Linked DNA regions of Homo sapiens: region 2 is linked to region 1. Evidence: fine-mapped expression QTL. Tissue or cell type: whole blood. Region 1 holds a variant in brackets; the other region holds the start of a gene. All regions are shown on one strand. Distances are from middle to middle.

The links. PIP is the estimated chance that this variant, and not a neighbour inherited with it, causes the effect.
Region 2: it holds the start of UXS1, and the variant in region 1 is fine-mapped to the expression of UXS1 in whole blood (TOPMed, PIP above 0.99).

The regions. Positions count from the first base shown.
Region 1 is chr2:106,157,444-106,165,624 of GRCh38, reverse strand. UXS1 (UDP-glucuronate decarboxylase 1) reads left to right here. Exons shown (of 15, transcript NM_001253875.2): 3 at 826-889; 4 at 1,915-1,958; 5 at 7,507-7,567. Among named protein-coding and RNA genes, the nearest start is that of UXS1, 33 kb to the left of the region's middle. RefSeq lists enhancers at 35-554, 4,288-4,377, 4,388-4,447. The variant A/G (reference allele first, on the strand shown) is at 4,686.
Region 2 is chr2:106,189,947-106,198,127 of GRCh38, reverse strand. UXS1 (UDP-glucuronate decarboxylase 1) reads left to right here and starts at 3,827. Exons shown (of 15, transcript NM_001253875.2): 1 at 3,827-3,980. The coding sequence starts at 3,887. RefSeq lists a silencer at 3,745-4,354 and an enhancer at 4,685-4,734.

The sequences.
Region 1 (8,181 bases):
CCAGCGTTAGGCCTGTATGCATCGTGTGTGCTTCTTCATAGGGCAGGAGGCACTCTTGTAAAAATAAAACTCGTGTTATCTCTTTACCAAATAAAAAAAAATAGCCTTTAAAAAAATCAGCAAAAAGAAATAAGCACTTATTGTAAAAACCATTTGGTACTGTTAATAGTTTTCCATGTAAAGGAAAATTTGCTCCACTTGGTTATGTTGTGAGAATCACTATTGTGATGATTAGGTTGGTATTGTAATGTAATGCGGCTGCACATGTCTACCAGGGTAAAAGGTTACTATGCCCTCAGGAGGCTTTTCATGTGGAGTTGGGTTTTGCAAGGTGGGTGGGATGGTGTCGATTTGATTCCTACCACCAGGGCATGTGTGTGTCTCCTGACAAAGGCTGCTGTGTATGACTAGGTGGGGTGCTCAGATCCCTTTTAAAGGAGCTCTGTGGTTTTACTTAAAAGACTCCATTTTTACATTAAATCCCCAGGAAAGCCCAGCAGGCACAAACACATACTCCTACAGACGCACTTCCTGCTTCAAATTTAAAATCCTGTGTTGGATGTAGCATAGCAGTGAGATTATTTTAGTTTAGTGGAAATAATCCATTAGGTAATACTGAGCATGTTCACAGATGGATTTAAGGGGAGTCCTTCCCTTTGGTTGTCTTCTTTTCCTCTGGTGCATCCCTTCTGGAGGGAATTGTACACATGACTGATACTTGAGCAGGAGACAGAGGTGGTCTGCATCCGTTGGGTTATGTTAGGGTAATTTATTCAGAAACAGTCTTAAAGTCACAAAGCCTTTCAGTTGATCTCAGTTTTATAGCTTTCTACTCAACAGGTCTATCCAGGAAAATGGTGAACTAAAAATTGAAAGCAAGATTGAAGAGGTTAGTCTTTTTTCTATTTTTGTATCTATTTCATCTGTATACTTGTCAATTTTACTTCCTTTGCTCGTGCTGTCATTCTTATTGTGGCAGCTTGATGCTGTTCTGTGATTTTGCAACCGTGTCTCAAAAAATTACTCCCTTATTTAAGAGGACATGCAGTCTGTTACTGTTGGTCCATTTTTGATGTATTAAAACAAATTCTACCTCAAAGGCAAAATGGATTTAGACTTTTACATGACTTTTCAGGTAAGCGTTTTTTAGAGAAAGGGAAGTGATTGCCTTTGGGAGATAGAGATGAGTACAAACATCCTCTCACTGGCACAGGTGCTGAAAAGAACAATGGCCACCAATCGGATGCTAGGCCACGTGCACAGATGGAGACGTTGCACACCCACCCAGCTGAAGGCTAGCACCTATGCTCAGTTATGCACCTCCTATTTAAATACATGTAGATACAGCCAGACCGTTGTAACATGGGCTGTGGGGGAGGGGATGGGAGGTTACTTACTTTGGATTTGAAGCCAACTTAGGGAGTCCTGGGAAGCCCTTGAGTTGCTGTCTTTCTGCCTGAGTCCACAGTGTCTACAGACGTGGATGTAGGTTGACTCACAGCCTGCAATTTATGTGCTGCAGCTGATAACATGAGTATACACAGTAATTGCAGAAACAAGATGTTAAGCTTTTGTGGGCCATGCTTAGGGGATTGTTCCTAAAAAGAGATGGATAGTGTTGATCTGTTTTTATGAGCCTGAAACACCTTTTACATTCTTCCTAGTAGGATGGGTGAGCAAAAACATTAATTGTCTCAGAAACCGAGGCATTTATGGAGTAAGAGTTCAAATGGACAGTTTATCTGTTCAATTCTAGCATTGTGATGCAAGTGGTGTATCTTAATTTCAAACTGGAAGTTAATTTGTAGAAGAAATTAAAACCTGTTTTGCCTTATCTGAAACATCAGAATGGGGTGAAAGGGGTTGAGAACTGTGTTTTTGCTTTAAAACTGATTTTTGTTATTATTGTTCTAGATGGTTGAACCACTAAGAGAGAAAATCAGAGATTTAGAAAAAAGGTATGTGTACTTTTTGTCTTAAAGTCAATAGTTAAAATAAGTTTGTCTCAATTGAGTAATTAATTCTGTTTGTTTGCTCCAAACTCTGCCAACCTAAATAAATGTCTGTATACGCATTTCCCCCACTTTGAGTGTAATACCCAGATAGAACATGGGGAGAAGAATCAATCTAGATGTGTTAAGATCTTCCTTCTTCAAACTCTGAACGTCTGAATTTCTGCAAATTTATTACATAGAAGTTGAGGCCAGGCCTCACATTTTCCTTGAACTTCTGCATATATTGATCAGTGGGATAGAATTCCAAAATAGGAGGACAATCCAGTGGGCCTGAAATGTACCATATGCAAACACCACAAAATAAGGATGTGGAGCCTATGGTGTGTCATGTGTAGTCATTTAGCTGCTTTTGTCACCAGAGTTCATGAGGAGGTTTCCAGAATTTAGTCCAGGTGAAGTGAGAGGGCAGAAGAATTATGTAATATGATAGAAATGTTTATTTGAGTCAGATTTCGGAGAGAACCCCTCCTCACCCTTTGGGACACTATTGCCCTCAGGTTCTCTCTCAGGCACTCCCGAGGCCGCTGAGCCTCAGCCTCCAGGACTTTCCTCTTGCACGTACTGTATGTGGAAAACTATCTAGAGTAGCAGTTGAATCTTCAGAAATTTTAGAAAGAAAAATGACAGCATTTATTAAAGTTGATGTGATTTTTTCCCCTTATTGGGATGAGTTTGGACGATGTGTGTCAGCATTGAATGAGCCTTTTATCAAGTCCAGAACAAAAATGAAAAAATGAAGAGCAGTTTTCCTTTGATTTTCATTAAATGATCGAAGGGAAATACGACTGGAGAAGAGTCATTAAACAAAATGTGTCATTCACTTGATTCTTATCCTCAACTGAGCAGTCAAGCAAACTGTTAATTTCAGCACTTATCAGAACAAAAGTTGTCAGTAATTTTTAACAGATTCCTTAGTAATATAAGGTTGTTACTTGTGCTTTAAATTTTTTTTGCCATGATTCTGTGCTTTAGTTATGCAGCTTGTAATATTTCCTTGGATGGGAGCCAGAAAATCTGCCTTTGATAAGACAGCAGAATTGAGAGATCTTAATTGAAGCTTTTTTTTTCTTTTTAGAAAAATTGGAACAATAAGAAATAACCCACCACACATTTTCTATATTGGTCTAAAAACTTGTCCACCAGTGATTATTTTCTTTAGACAATAGAATTTATTTATGAAAAGAAAAATGTCTCAATTCGATAACTTCCCTAAGGCAATAGCTTACAAACAAGAGCTCTCAACATGTGAGAATTATGCAATCTCTTTGATACTTTTGTGATATCTTTGAGTGTGTGCTTTTAAACTGGATGGAGAAGCACAAATAAGAATTCAATCCTAAGAATTTACTAATAATTTATTCTTGTCAACCTGTGAAACCGCCTTGAAAATAGTGGCAAAGGGCAAACATTTGCCTCTCGGGCTGCTTGCAGGTGACTCATTCTGGAATGGTTCCGTCCTTCAGGTTGGTCAGCAAGTCAGGTGATCCGCGTGCCTGCATTACTGTGTCAGAAGGTCAAGCGTAGGCCTGGCTAAAAAAGCGTGACGGTGGAAATTGATGGAACTCCGTCTAGCTTACTTTTCCTGACTCAGTGTGTGATAAAGATGATCAAACAACCATCTTGACACTGACAAGATAAGAATGTAACTGGAAATAGGTTTACTTGACGTGCTTGTCACTTTGAGCAAAGTGGCCCCCAAGAACTAAAGATATTTTTGGAAGTTACAGGTTATATTTGTACAGGGAAAGAAAGAAGACAGTGTCATTCTAGAATCCTGAGTAAATGGATTGTATGTGGGCTTTTTCTCTTTTACCACACTCCCATTGCTTAATACTTTGATTATATGCCATTTGTTTAATTTTAACTCTGTATCTTTAAATGTTCTTTGAATAGATGGCAAATGATAATTTAAATTCTAAGTAAGAATACTGCTTACTGGCTAAACAGTAAGTTTAATCTGGAATGGCATAAAATATTAATGATTAGTAAAGGACTAATTTGGGGTTGTAAGGAAAGATTTGTTACCTCATTCTGCCTCTGCTTGCTGGTTTCTCTCTCGCTTAGGAATGCAGGCCTCATGCCTCTGCTGCATTTTGCTGCTTAACCCCCAGTGCCTAGTGTAGAACGGAGCTTAATGGAAAGTTCCTGAATAAGTGGATGAGCCAGTACACTGGGTAGGATTTTCACCTGCTACAGGTCTTTAAGAAGCCTTGTGGGCCAGGCACGGTGTAATACCAGCACTTTGGGAAGCCTCGGCAGGCTGATGGCTTGAGCCCAGGAGTTCGAGCCCAGCCTGGGCAACATAATGAAACCTCATCTCTACAAGAAATACAAGGCTGCAGTGAGCTGTGATTATGCCGCTACACTCCATCTGGGGTGACAGAGTGTAAGACCTTGTCTCAAAAAAGGAAAAAAAAAAAAGGCCTTGTGCTCCTGCCCAGCCCTGAGTCAGTCCAGCAGGTGCTTGGGAGCACCCAGGCAGCTGGCTCAGCATGTGGCCCAGCCAACGGCACCCACATGGTCACTGCACTCTATCAGTCACTGTGCTCTGTCACCCATTACTGCAAGGAGGAAAACAGGATGACATGCATACTGAGGAGGACCCCACAGGCACTCTCCCCTTCCTGTTTTTCAGCTTTGTATGTGTGGCTTCTCGAAGAAGTGAGGAGT[A/G]TAAGATAGTTTTTTAAAAGTTTAATTACTTGAGCGTATACATATGAAATCTAAAACTTGGCTGCTACATATTGAAGAAGAACAAAGCAAGAAACTCAACCTATTTTTCGTTTTTTAAATTAAAGGTTTCAGCACGCTGCATTTGAAGTATTTTTTAGTCCATCTTATGCCCGTCACTGCGTATGTCGGGCAACCATGCCTTTGCTTCAGTTCAATTTCTTTGAAGTACATTTCCTGTAATAAAACGGTTTGGCCGTTTCCTCTTGGTATAAGTAGCACACCACATTTCATTTTAAGCTTTCAGATAGGGACTATTCTAAGCTGACAGCTTGGATTAACATTTGTTTCCATGGCCCCGGATGCACACTCCACAGTCCTGCGCCTCCGCTCCTCACTGAATTGGTTTTCTCCCTGCACCGCGTTTTCCCATATGTAGCTATATTCCCATTCCCGAGCGGTCTTGACTCTAAAATCATATACACGGTAGAGAAGGAGCCCTGAAGGTGAGTGAGGGGAAGTCATGAGTCAGAGACGGCTCCAGCGTTTTCACGACAGACAGTTCGGAGGAGCCACGGTGCTTATGAGCAGTCGTGGGAAGGAAAGAGTCTCAGCTGTGCCACGGCACTGGGTGTGCCACTTGGGGACTGAGGCTGAAGACATGGATATCGTGAGCTCAGAGAAATGAGGACAATTGGAGCGGTGTGAGAGGTGCACACAAATAACTCTGAGATTTACAGTGCCGTCCCCTAGCTGAGTTGGTGAGGGAAGAAGAGGCGGAATGACAAGAAGTGTTACTTGGCAAACAAGACATCTGTGCCGCTCCCGCCAGTCTAACAGCATCGCTCCTGACTGAAGGCAGAACTTGCTCCTGCTCCCCAGCTGCATGGATGACTTTCCTGAGGCACTTCCTATGGGCGGCAAGTACTAAAGACGGTCGGTGAGCTCACAAGGGGGAGCCCCAGGGTTCCCACCCTTGCCCTCAGACTCTCCCATCTGATTTTGTAGTCTGCAAGGGGAACTTGAGCTTTTGAGACCCTGGAAGTTCTTAATGGGGGAATTCGTCTGCATTGTAATAGAAAGCCCTTTCACTCCAATTTAAGCACGCTCAGGGCTTTCTGGAGATGAGAAACCCCTGCTTCAGGGGCTTCTGTCTAATGACCCTTCATATTCCCTTCAGTTCAGCGACCATTAAGGAAGTGCATTCTGTATCCTAGTGCTGTGTCTGTGCTGGGGACAGGGCAGGGATGGAGACGGTGCCACCTGGCACAACACCTTTCCAATTAGTATAATGACCATAAAGCTGATGTCTCAGATTTTATTTAAAGCACTTTTGTTCCTAACTGAATAACTTTTAAAATGAATATTTCAGTTCTGTGTTTATTACCTCTCACTGGACGTTTTATATTCAGATCACACTGCCCTGCTCCTGGGACATCAGTGTGGGCTGGGGACCAGTGGCACCTTAGGGCAGCAAGAGGGTATCAAAAGATAAGTGAGACTTAGGGTCAGAGCAGATCCACAGAGACAGAAGATGCTGATGCTCAGTCGTTTTACCAGGGACGCTGGTCAGGAAGAGGATGCCGTGATTGTGAAAATTCCTGGAGCAGGAGACAAAGTTTCATTAATATCTCTTCTCGCTCTTGTGGAGCGGTCCTCATGCGTTGGGCCTGTGACTTCACGAAGCTGCTTTCTTCCACCTGGACCCTGATACAGTACCCAGAGAATGCCATGATTATAGCCCGGTGGGCTCTTCTTGCCGACTGCCCTGAGAAAACCAAGGCACTGAGAACAACAGGTGTTACAGCGAAGAGAGAGTTTAATCACAGGGCCAGCCACGTGTGAGAATGGGCGAGGTTTCTCAAATCTGCCTCCCTGAGAACTCGGCGGCTTGAGTTTTTAAGGGTAGTTTGGTGGGTGGGGGCCTGGGGAGCTGAAACGATTGGCTGGGTGTGAAATCATGGGGGTGTCTAAACTGTCTTCAGGCAGCTGAATCAATTCATGGAAGCCAAGTCTGAGGACCGGGTGACATCTCTTAGTCTGTCTGCCAAAATGCTAAATCTGAAAGATACCTCAAATACCGTTTCCTTAGGATTCACAATAGTGATGTTATCTGTAGAAGTTGTTGGAGAAGTTACAAATCTTGCGACCTCTGTTTGAGTGACCCTGGGGCAGGAAGCAACATATAGAAAAGCCAGCTAAGCTAAGCAGTTGGCAGGTCATTGTTTATGCTTATTCTTTAGCAAAGTTCAGACCCTACCATAACTCTAACCTCGGCTTAGGAATGTGGCTTCAATCTCGAAACAAGGAGGGGGGTCAGTTTTCCTTGCCTCATCGTTTAACTATAAATTCCTCTCCTAGTTATATTGGCCTCTGCACTAAAATAAGCAAAAACAATAAAAACAAAAATTGAGCCTGTGAGGTTAGATGGAGCCAGTCATATTAGATTTCTCTCATTATTACAATTCTGCAAAGGCAGTTTCACGGCCATCTCCCTCATGGTGTGGTTTTATCTGGACTAATAGAGGTAGTGCCTGCCCTGCTTTAGCAGCTGCTGGAAGCCGGTAGCTCCTTGCGCTTTTGCTTCTCAGAGATAGAATCTCAAGTCACGTCTTTAGCTTGATTCTAAACAAGGAGCAGGTTATATAGCTCTTGACCTCAAGTTAACTAGTGACTCCTTGGTTTCTCCAGCACTCATTCAAGAGTGGAGAGAAGAGCAAACAATAACAGTCCCAAAACCTGGCACATGCTTTGATGGTAGACAGAGAAAATATTCAAATGAGATGTTTGACTTTTTCCTTTTGAATCTCTTTATATTATACAGCTTTACCCAGAAATACCCACCAGTAAAGTTTTTATCAGAAAAGGATCGGAAAAGAATTTTGGTAAGTTTGCACACCTGAATAGTATTTGTAATATTAAGAAACTTTCTTTTTTCGTTGAGAGATAATTCACATATCATAGAATTCACGCTTCTCAAAGATACGATTCAGTGGCTTATAGTATGTCCACAGAGTTAGCACCGCATTCTGATTCCACAGTTTCTTCATCACCCCAAAAAAGAGTCCTGTACTCATTAGTAGTCACTTCCATTTCCCAGTCCCCTCCCGCCAGCTCTGGGAAACCACTAAAACTACTCTCTATCTCTATGAATCTGCCTTTTTTGAACATTTCGTCTGAAAGAAATAATGTGATATTTGATCTGTCTTCAAGACTCAGCTGTAGCATCAATCAGTACACTTCATTCCTTTTCATGGCTAAACAATGCTCCATTGTATGGGTGTACCACATACTGTTTCCCTGTTTCTCAATTGATGGGTATTTGGAGTTGTTTCCACCTTGAGGCTATCGTGAATAATGCTGCTATGAATGCATGTGTGTAAGTTTTCGTGTGGACACAGGATTTTCATTCTTTTAGGTATACTTTGGAGTGGAATTACTGGATTGTATGGAAACCCTGTGTTTAACTTTTTGAGGAAGTATGAAATTTGAGAGCAGT
Region 2 (8,181 bases), 33 kb before region 1:
CAGCTCTTGTGAGCCTGTCAGCTGGTCCCGGCATGGCAAACCACAGTCCATGACCTGGAAGCATACCTTCCTGTTGTGAAATTCCTTAGCCATTCATGCGACCCTGTCCCACAGTGACCACTCACCACATTTTGCTATGAGTGATAGTCATTTCTGTGCAAGTCTGCACTCAACTCCAGAAAAGCATCCTCACACAGGGAAAATCATGGCTTAAAATTCCAGCCCTACACTCCCAGCTCTGTGACTGGTAACCCTGTTACTTACCAAGCCAAGTAACTGGTAACCCTGCCACCTACCAAGTGTTGGGACACTTATCAAATGTTCAGAGCCTCAGTTTCCTCATCTATTAATGACAGCAGCAATGTAAATCAGTACAGCCCTTAAGGAAGACCGTATAGAAGTTCCCAAAAAAATTAAACACACAACTACCTTATGAGCCAAAAATTCCACTTCTGGGTAATGTACCCAAAAGAACTGAAAGTGGGGTCTTAAAGAGATATTTGTACACCTGTGTTCACAGCAGCATTATTCACAATACCCAAAAGGTGGAAGCAAACTAGTTTTAGCTATTCCACCATCTATACATATATTAAAACCTCATATGATACATCATAAATATATACAATTTTTGTTGATTTAAAAATTAATTTAAAATTTTTTTTTTTTTTTTTTTTTTTAAAGAGCAGCAACAATGGCAACCCTGCCCCACAGGGCTGTTGCAAGAATTAAATGAGTGTGTTAGTAGTTTTCACACTGCTATAAAGAACTGCTGGAGACTAGCTAATTTATAAAGGAAAGAGGTTTAATGGACTCACAGTTCCGCATGGCTGGGGAGGCCTCAGGAAACTTACAATCATGGCAGAGGGTGAAGGGGAAGCAAGGACCTTCCTCATATGGCGGCAGGGGAGAGGAGAGAAATGCCGTGAAGGAGAAACTTCCAAACACTTTTAAAACCGGCCGGGTGTGGTGGCTCACACCTGTAATCCCAGCACATTGGGAGGCCAAGGCGGGTGGATTACCTGAGGTCAGGAGTTCAAGACCAGCCTGACCAACATGGTGAAACCCCATCTCTACTAAAAATACAAAAATTAGCCAGGCGTGGTGGCGGGCGCCTGTAATCCCAGCTACTTGGGAGGCTGAGGCAGGATGATCACTTGAACCCGGGAGGCAGAGGTTGCAGTAAGCTGAGATTGTGCCATTGCACTCCAGCCTGGGCAACAGAGTGAGACCCCGTCTCAAAAAAAAAAATGCCATTGGCTGTCATGAGAACTCCCTTACCATCATGAGAACAGCATAGGGAAAACCACCTCCATGATCCAATCACCTCTCATCAGGTCCTTCCCTTGACATGTGGGGATTACAATTTGGGTGGGGACATAGAGCCAAACCATATCAATGAGGTAACAATGAAAGTGCATTGCATAACAGTCCCTGGCACATTGTAGAGGTTTATAAATGTTAATTTTCTCCACTCCTTAGGCTTTAAACACTTTAGAAGTCATATTACAATTCATTTTTTAATTACCCTGAGTGTCAAAAACACTACCTTTGTAACTTGTTCAAAAATATGTAATCGCTCAAAAATATTGTTGTTAACCTATCCACTGGAAATATGAGGGGGTTGACAGTAAGGGGAGGGAGCAGGGAGGGATGAGCCCAGAACCTGCGGGGGAAGTGGGGATGGGCTGGGAAGAAACAAGGGGGTCTGGGAAGAAACAAGAGAGGCAAGGAGCACAGGGAAATGGTGCTGCCTACGCCCAAGATCCCCGGAGGAGCTTGGAGGGTCTCTTTGGCATCTCCCTCCCTCAGGCCTTCTTACCTCCACTGGGTGCACACTTACTATTGCTTACTTTTTAATTCTGGCTGCGGCTGAGCAAGACACCAGTGTCCTGGGACACCAACCGCCTTCTGGGTGGCAATAATGACAGCAGCAGCTATTTCAACTGCAGCTGCTAACGGTATTTCCATATACTTAATCCCACAGGGCAGAAGTTGGCAGTAGTGTCCAGCAGCAGAAAAAAATGCTAACTGGGAATGCTGGGCTTAAGGAGTTTAGTACAGAAATGGCAAATACCCCACAATTTCTGACCTTTGTCGTCTAATAGGATACCTATCAACTAAACCCTACCTAAAACCTAAAATGCTTGAAATCCGCCTAGAAGCTTCAGTCTGATTTTGCCCATAGGTCAAATGTTAATGAACTATTATTTTCTTCCATTTCTGCTCCTCATCTTTAATCTAAAAACCACGGAGTCATGGAATGGGAAAGGCCTAGAGCTCCACTTGCTCTAGTTCTCTTTTCAAAAACCATAGCCAGAAAGCCACGAGGAAATGCAGACTTACAAACAAAATCGATTTGTTCCAAACTGGTGTGCTCTGGGGGCCTGGCCCCTCTGGGAACCCAGGACTCAGGCTCCCATGCCAGGTGTTTTGTCACTTGGCAGCCTCCTTGGACACGTCAGAGTCAGGGAGCTGGGCTTCTCGAAAGAAGTCCACTCCATCTATGGGCAGCATGCATAGCAGGGGCAATCCGCCTTAGCAAACCGCTCAGTGTTTCCTCCTAGTCAGGGATTCTCAACAGGTTTAGGGGAGGGGTAGGATGGAGGTAGGTTTTATCAGAATCACATCATTTGCACTATAGTTTGAAAGATGTAACATAAAGCTGCTGCTTTAGTACCAGCTGCCATATTTCCTTTTCTTGGAGGTTTCTAATAAATCTAAAGGAGGGTGATCTATTAAGTTTTGCAAAATGGCCTGAGGTTCCAAGAGGTAGGAGAGCCGCTGCTGACTTCAACTTCTCCGTATAGCTGAAGATGACCTCTTGAAGCCTGCAGATCCCAAATCCGGGATCTCTCTTAATGTGGCATCACACACATCTGTGTGTACCTGTCTTTTTTTCCTCCATGGGACCAGCTCTCTCCAGATCCAATGACAAGCTTCCGATTATCTGTGGATCTTCTGATACATCTCCTTGCTTGTAATCATCATTCAGTAAATGCTTTTTAAACACAGGTACCTCCTATGCAATCAGTACAGCACTCATAAAACAGATATACTCAACAAAAAGATTGAATGAAACACACACGACAACATGGTCAGGGTTTTTCTCTAGGCAGAGACAGCGCAATTTCATCTTTTCTTTTCCAAGTCTATCCTAAATTAATATACTTAGCACTGCTTTTTAAAATAATAATAAAAGACTATTATTAAAACAAAGGCACCCCAGTTGATCATAGCCAAGGAAAAAAAACGCAGCCAGTTTTTACTTCGGCAAGGTTTAGGGGATTTATCATTTTCGCTGCCGATATTCTAACTAAAAAAAGCCAACTAAACAGCCCAGAGAACGAGGCAACTTTCTGAGGCAGGCATTCAACTTCTAAGGCTCGGCCAAGTTTAGCAAATAAGTTTCGTTTCACTGCAACACCGGAATGCCCACCGCGTGCCCCCCTCCGGGCGGGGCTCGGAAACTGGCCACTGCAGTCGTGCCCTTGGGTTGGGGACGCACCTCAGCGAAACGAATCCAGCCGCACCTCCCGGCTGGCACCCGCGCGCTTTAACTCAGGGAAAACAGACCGGAACGCGCATGCGCCGCGGCGCGCCGCACCGCCCACCAGCCCTCCAGGTCACATTCTTCGAAAACCAAGGCAAGAAAGGCGGCAACTGCGCCTGCGGGTAGAGAAGCCGGAGGGGCGGGGGCGGAGCCGGAGGAAGGGGGTGGAGGCGCGCCTGCGCGGTGATCCCGCCAGCAGGAAGCAGGCGCGCGGGGGCGGGGGCGCGCGGCGGCAGGAGGCGGGGCTCTCGGGGCCGCTGCCGCCGCCGCCGCCGCGCATTGTGCAGCAGGCGGGCCCCCGCGCGGTAGGGCCCTGGACCCGCGCGGCTCCCGGGGATGGTGAGCAAGGCGCTGCTGCGCCTCGTGTCTGCCGTCAACCGCAGGAGGATGAAGCTGCTGCTGGGCATCGCCTTGCTGGCCTACGTCGCCTGTGAGTGCGCGCCCGCTGCCAGCTGGGGAGCCCCATTCATTCCCCGGCGCCGCGGTGGGCCGGGCGGCGGTGGTTCGGGGCCCCGAGGCGGCCCTGCAGCCCCGCGTTGCTCCCCGCCCCGGGCGGGGCCGGCGCTTTCTGCTCCCACCCCTTTCCACTCTTGCAGCAAAGCGGGCCAACTTGGGCGCACACCCCCTACCGCTTAGGCCCGGGCGCGGACCCCGGGCGGAGGGGCCCCTAGCAGTCCTCGGGCGGCCCCAGGTCTCTGCCTCCTGCCCGGGCGCGGGGGACTCGGCGGCGGCGCTGTCGTCCATGTCGCGCTGGGAGCCGGCGAGGGTCCCGGTCGGGGACTCCGGAGCGTGCCGCGTGGGGATACCCTTGGGGACAGCCGAGGTCGCGCCGCGGTGTCGGTTAAGTCGGATAAAAATACTGTGGCCATTGGCAGAGCCCCCGCTCCGACTGTTTGCTCCTCAGGAAAATTACTCAGCGTTTAACTCTTGGGGAGCCAAGTGTGGGCGGCTCCCCGGCCCGCGGCCGTGCCCAGGTGTCGGGGCGCACCGGCATCCCCATTCTAGGTTTTCCCCCGGGGCTCGGCGGCCGGGCGAAGCAGGCAGGCAGCTGGGTGGCCGGGCAGGGCGTGCCTGCAGCTTCTCTGTGCGCGGGTCCAGTTTCTGTCATCGCTCACAGCATGCTGCCTGGAGACAGGGCAGGAGGGGCACTTCGCAGGCAGGTGGTCGGCCCTCTGCTTGTTAGGGAAGTCAGAAACCGTCCTTTTAAAGATCTATTCGTTGGGAATGTTTTAATTGATGCTATTAATACGTTACCAAGTAGCAAAATTGGACTAGAAATAGCTCCCAGTGTGAGCTGCGTTTGAATGCTAGCCACCCAGACACACACTGAAATGAAATCACCTGCTAACCTGTTGGCGTTACCAAGATCTGATTCCAGAGGTGAGTGGGTACTTCACTTGTCTGAAGTGACTTCAGTTGAGCTCTAGGAAGGCAAGTATGAGTAGATCCAGCCTGTGTGCTACAGCCCAGCTGTTCAGGAGGTGGAGCTGGAAAACCCCAGCAGGACTCCGGGTTGCTAGGGGAGGTTTCAGGCGTCGGATGGGTGTTAGATGTGTGTAGTTTTGCAAGGGAGGAAGAACTAGTCTAAAGTGTGTGTGTGGTCAATCTTGAGTAAGAAAGCTGAGACCCAAGAGGAAAGACCATTTAAAGTTGAATAACTATTATTATGGCAGTAATACTACCTACATTTGTTGAGTGCTTAACTGTGTGAGTCATGATTCTTAGTGCCATTGTCTCAATCATTGAGCAACCCTGGGAAATCGGTACTATAATGATTCCTATTTTAGAGGTGAGGAAGTTAAGGCCAAGAGAGATTAGGAAATTTATGGATGATCACACAGATAGTAAGAGAAGGAGGGCCAAAATTTGAACCCAGAAAGGCCTGGGAGCAGGAGCTAGAACCCAGGTCTTCGAACAGCAGTTTCAATGTTTATTTTGGGGGTATTCTATAGTCGCTGCAAGGGTTTAGAATTAATAAAGTAGGGGATTTATGGAGCCATGGGAAGTTTTTTTTTTTTTTTTGAGACGGAGTCTCGCTCTGTTCAGCCCAGGCTGGAGTGCAGGGGCGCGATCTCGGCTCACTGCACGCTCCACCTCCCGGGTTCACGCCATTCTCCTGCCTCAGCCTCCCAAGTAACTGGGACTACAGGCACCCGCCACCACGCCCGGCTAATTTTTTGTATTTTTAGTAGAGACGGGGTTTCACCATGTTAGCCAGGATGGTCTCGATCTCCTGACCTCGTGATCCGCCTGCCTCGGCCTCCCAAAGTGCTGGGATTACAGGCGTAAGCCACCGCTCCCAGCAGGAAAGTTTTTTAACCAATCATTCATCTGACCAGGAAATCTTACCAAGTCCTTACTGTTGTCCCTGAATTTGGCACTAGGAGACACCATGGGGTGCTAAAACTTAACTGGTCTGTGCTGTGATGGTACAGACCCTATACCACATAGTGTAGCACGTTGATTCTCAGACTTAAGCATGCATCAGAATCAGTAGGGTTTTTTTTAAAAAACACAGACTGCTTGTCTCCCACCTCAAGTTTCTGATTCAGTTGGTCTGGGATGTGGCCTGAGAATCTGCATCACTAATAGGTTGTTCTGTATGCTGTTGCTGTGACCTGACACCACTTTGAGACCCACTGGCCAAGATGGTGAGGTGGGCATGAATTGGAAATGAAGGTTAAATTACAAACTGGTGTGAGGAAAAGGAATGCATGAGAACTATGCCAGGAACTCCTGAGTGAGAGCAATCAGGTACGTTTGTTTTGTTGAGGAATCAAAAGTGAGCTGAGAATGGACGGCTTATGTAGGAGTTAACAGGGAAGTCATAGGAGAGAGCGTGTTCTAGGAGGAGCAGTGTGTGCAGAGGTCCTGCGGCAGCCAAGAGCAGGCAGTATTCTAGGAATGCAAAGAAGGATGGTATTGTTGGAGTGTGAAAACAAAATTACAGCCATGAGGCTGCCCAGGCAGACAGGGGCCAGAGCAGGCAAGCAGGCAGGCAGGCCTGGGGTGCAGCCCACGACATGGTTGATTTTAGCTATGAGGGGTTTAACACAGGGTGGAGGCAGTGTTAATAAGGAGCAGGTATGCTAAGTCTGAGCCACTCTGCAGGGAAAAATGTTACAGGGCTTGTGATTGATAACACCGAAGGACACTGAAAATGTAGTCCCTCAACCGTGATGTCTGTGTTTTCTAATCTCTGCTTTTCCTAATTAGTAATCTTGCCCTCCCTGTTACAAGTAAAATCTCACCACTGTTTGAAAAAACTGTCCATACTTCCCAATTATATACACCCTCACTGTTAGCCAGCCTCCGTTGCAGAAATGCCCTCCCTGTTTCGGGAACAGAACTCAAGTTCTGTTAGCCTTTCTCCTTCTCCTCCTTACATCTTTCCCAAAGTCTTTGTTACCTACTCTGGCCCTGAGTCTCCTCCTTGATACCACATAACTCTTCTTCATGTCTTAGGGTTGACCACCTGCTAACTTGCATTGTACTTGAGTTCTTTCCCATTCATATGTTGGCTTTTTTTTCTCAATGAAATCCCGATTCTGAGGACAGGGATTGTGTCTTATGTGTTTCAGCCCTTGAAACATTTATAGCAGTGCTAATGGCTCATTGAAAGAACTCAGTTTCTGCCCTTTGTGCTGAATCAAAAATCAGGCCAACCTACTAGGTAGCTCCTGGGCAGACTGCTTGAATTACCTTTAACGTATTTTTTTTTAACATGCATATAGTGTAAAAAGTTAAATAGCTTCTGCAGGGCCAAACAGTATCCCCTGCCACCATTTCCCTCTCCCCAGAAGCAGGCACTTCATTTCTTTTTTTTTTTTTTTTGATACAGAGTTTCGCTTTTGTTGCCCAGGCTGGAGTGCAGTGGCGTGATTTCGGCTCACTGCAACCTTGGCCTCTTGGGTTCAAGCGATTCTCCTGCCTCAGCCTCCTGAGTAGCTGGGATTACAGGCATGCGCCACCACGCCCGGCTAATTTTGTATTTTTAGTAGAGACGGTTTCTCCATGTTGGTCAGGCTGGTCTCAAACTCCTGACCTCAGGTGATCTGCCTACCTCAGCCTCCCAAAGTGCTAGGATTGCAGGCGTGAGCCACCGCACCCAACCCCTAGGCATTTCACTTCTTTTAGTTGATTATTTTGGTATTTATCATTGTGCCATTGAATCACCTGGCTTCCTGATTTTTCAGTTGTAGATATTACCTAGTGACTTTGTTCTTTGGGAGATGATTTTTTTCTTCTCTTTGCCCCTGTACATGCTCTCCACCCTCCTATATAGATGTGGTATAATCTCACGGAGCTCATCATGCAGTGTTTACAAGCATGACTATGTAAATGCTGTTCCTAGTGAGTCATGTTGTAGGTTACTTTTTGTTTTCTCCAGCGAATAATTGGCTGGTGTTCTAATTTGCTTGCTTTCTATGTAGTATGACAGATCCAACTCCAAACTCTTTGCCAGTTGTCTGTCGCGTCTTCCCCCATGATGTTCATGAGCATCAGGATGCCCCTTGGTCAGCACCCCTTCCTGAAGAAGGGCCCCGGGGCCTTCTACTGCAACTTGTGGATACATCTGAGGGTCAGCTGCCAGCCTCACCACCTGCACCCACATCAGCCTGGACCTACCC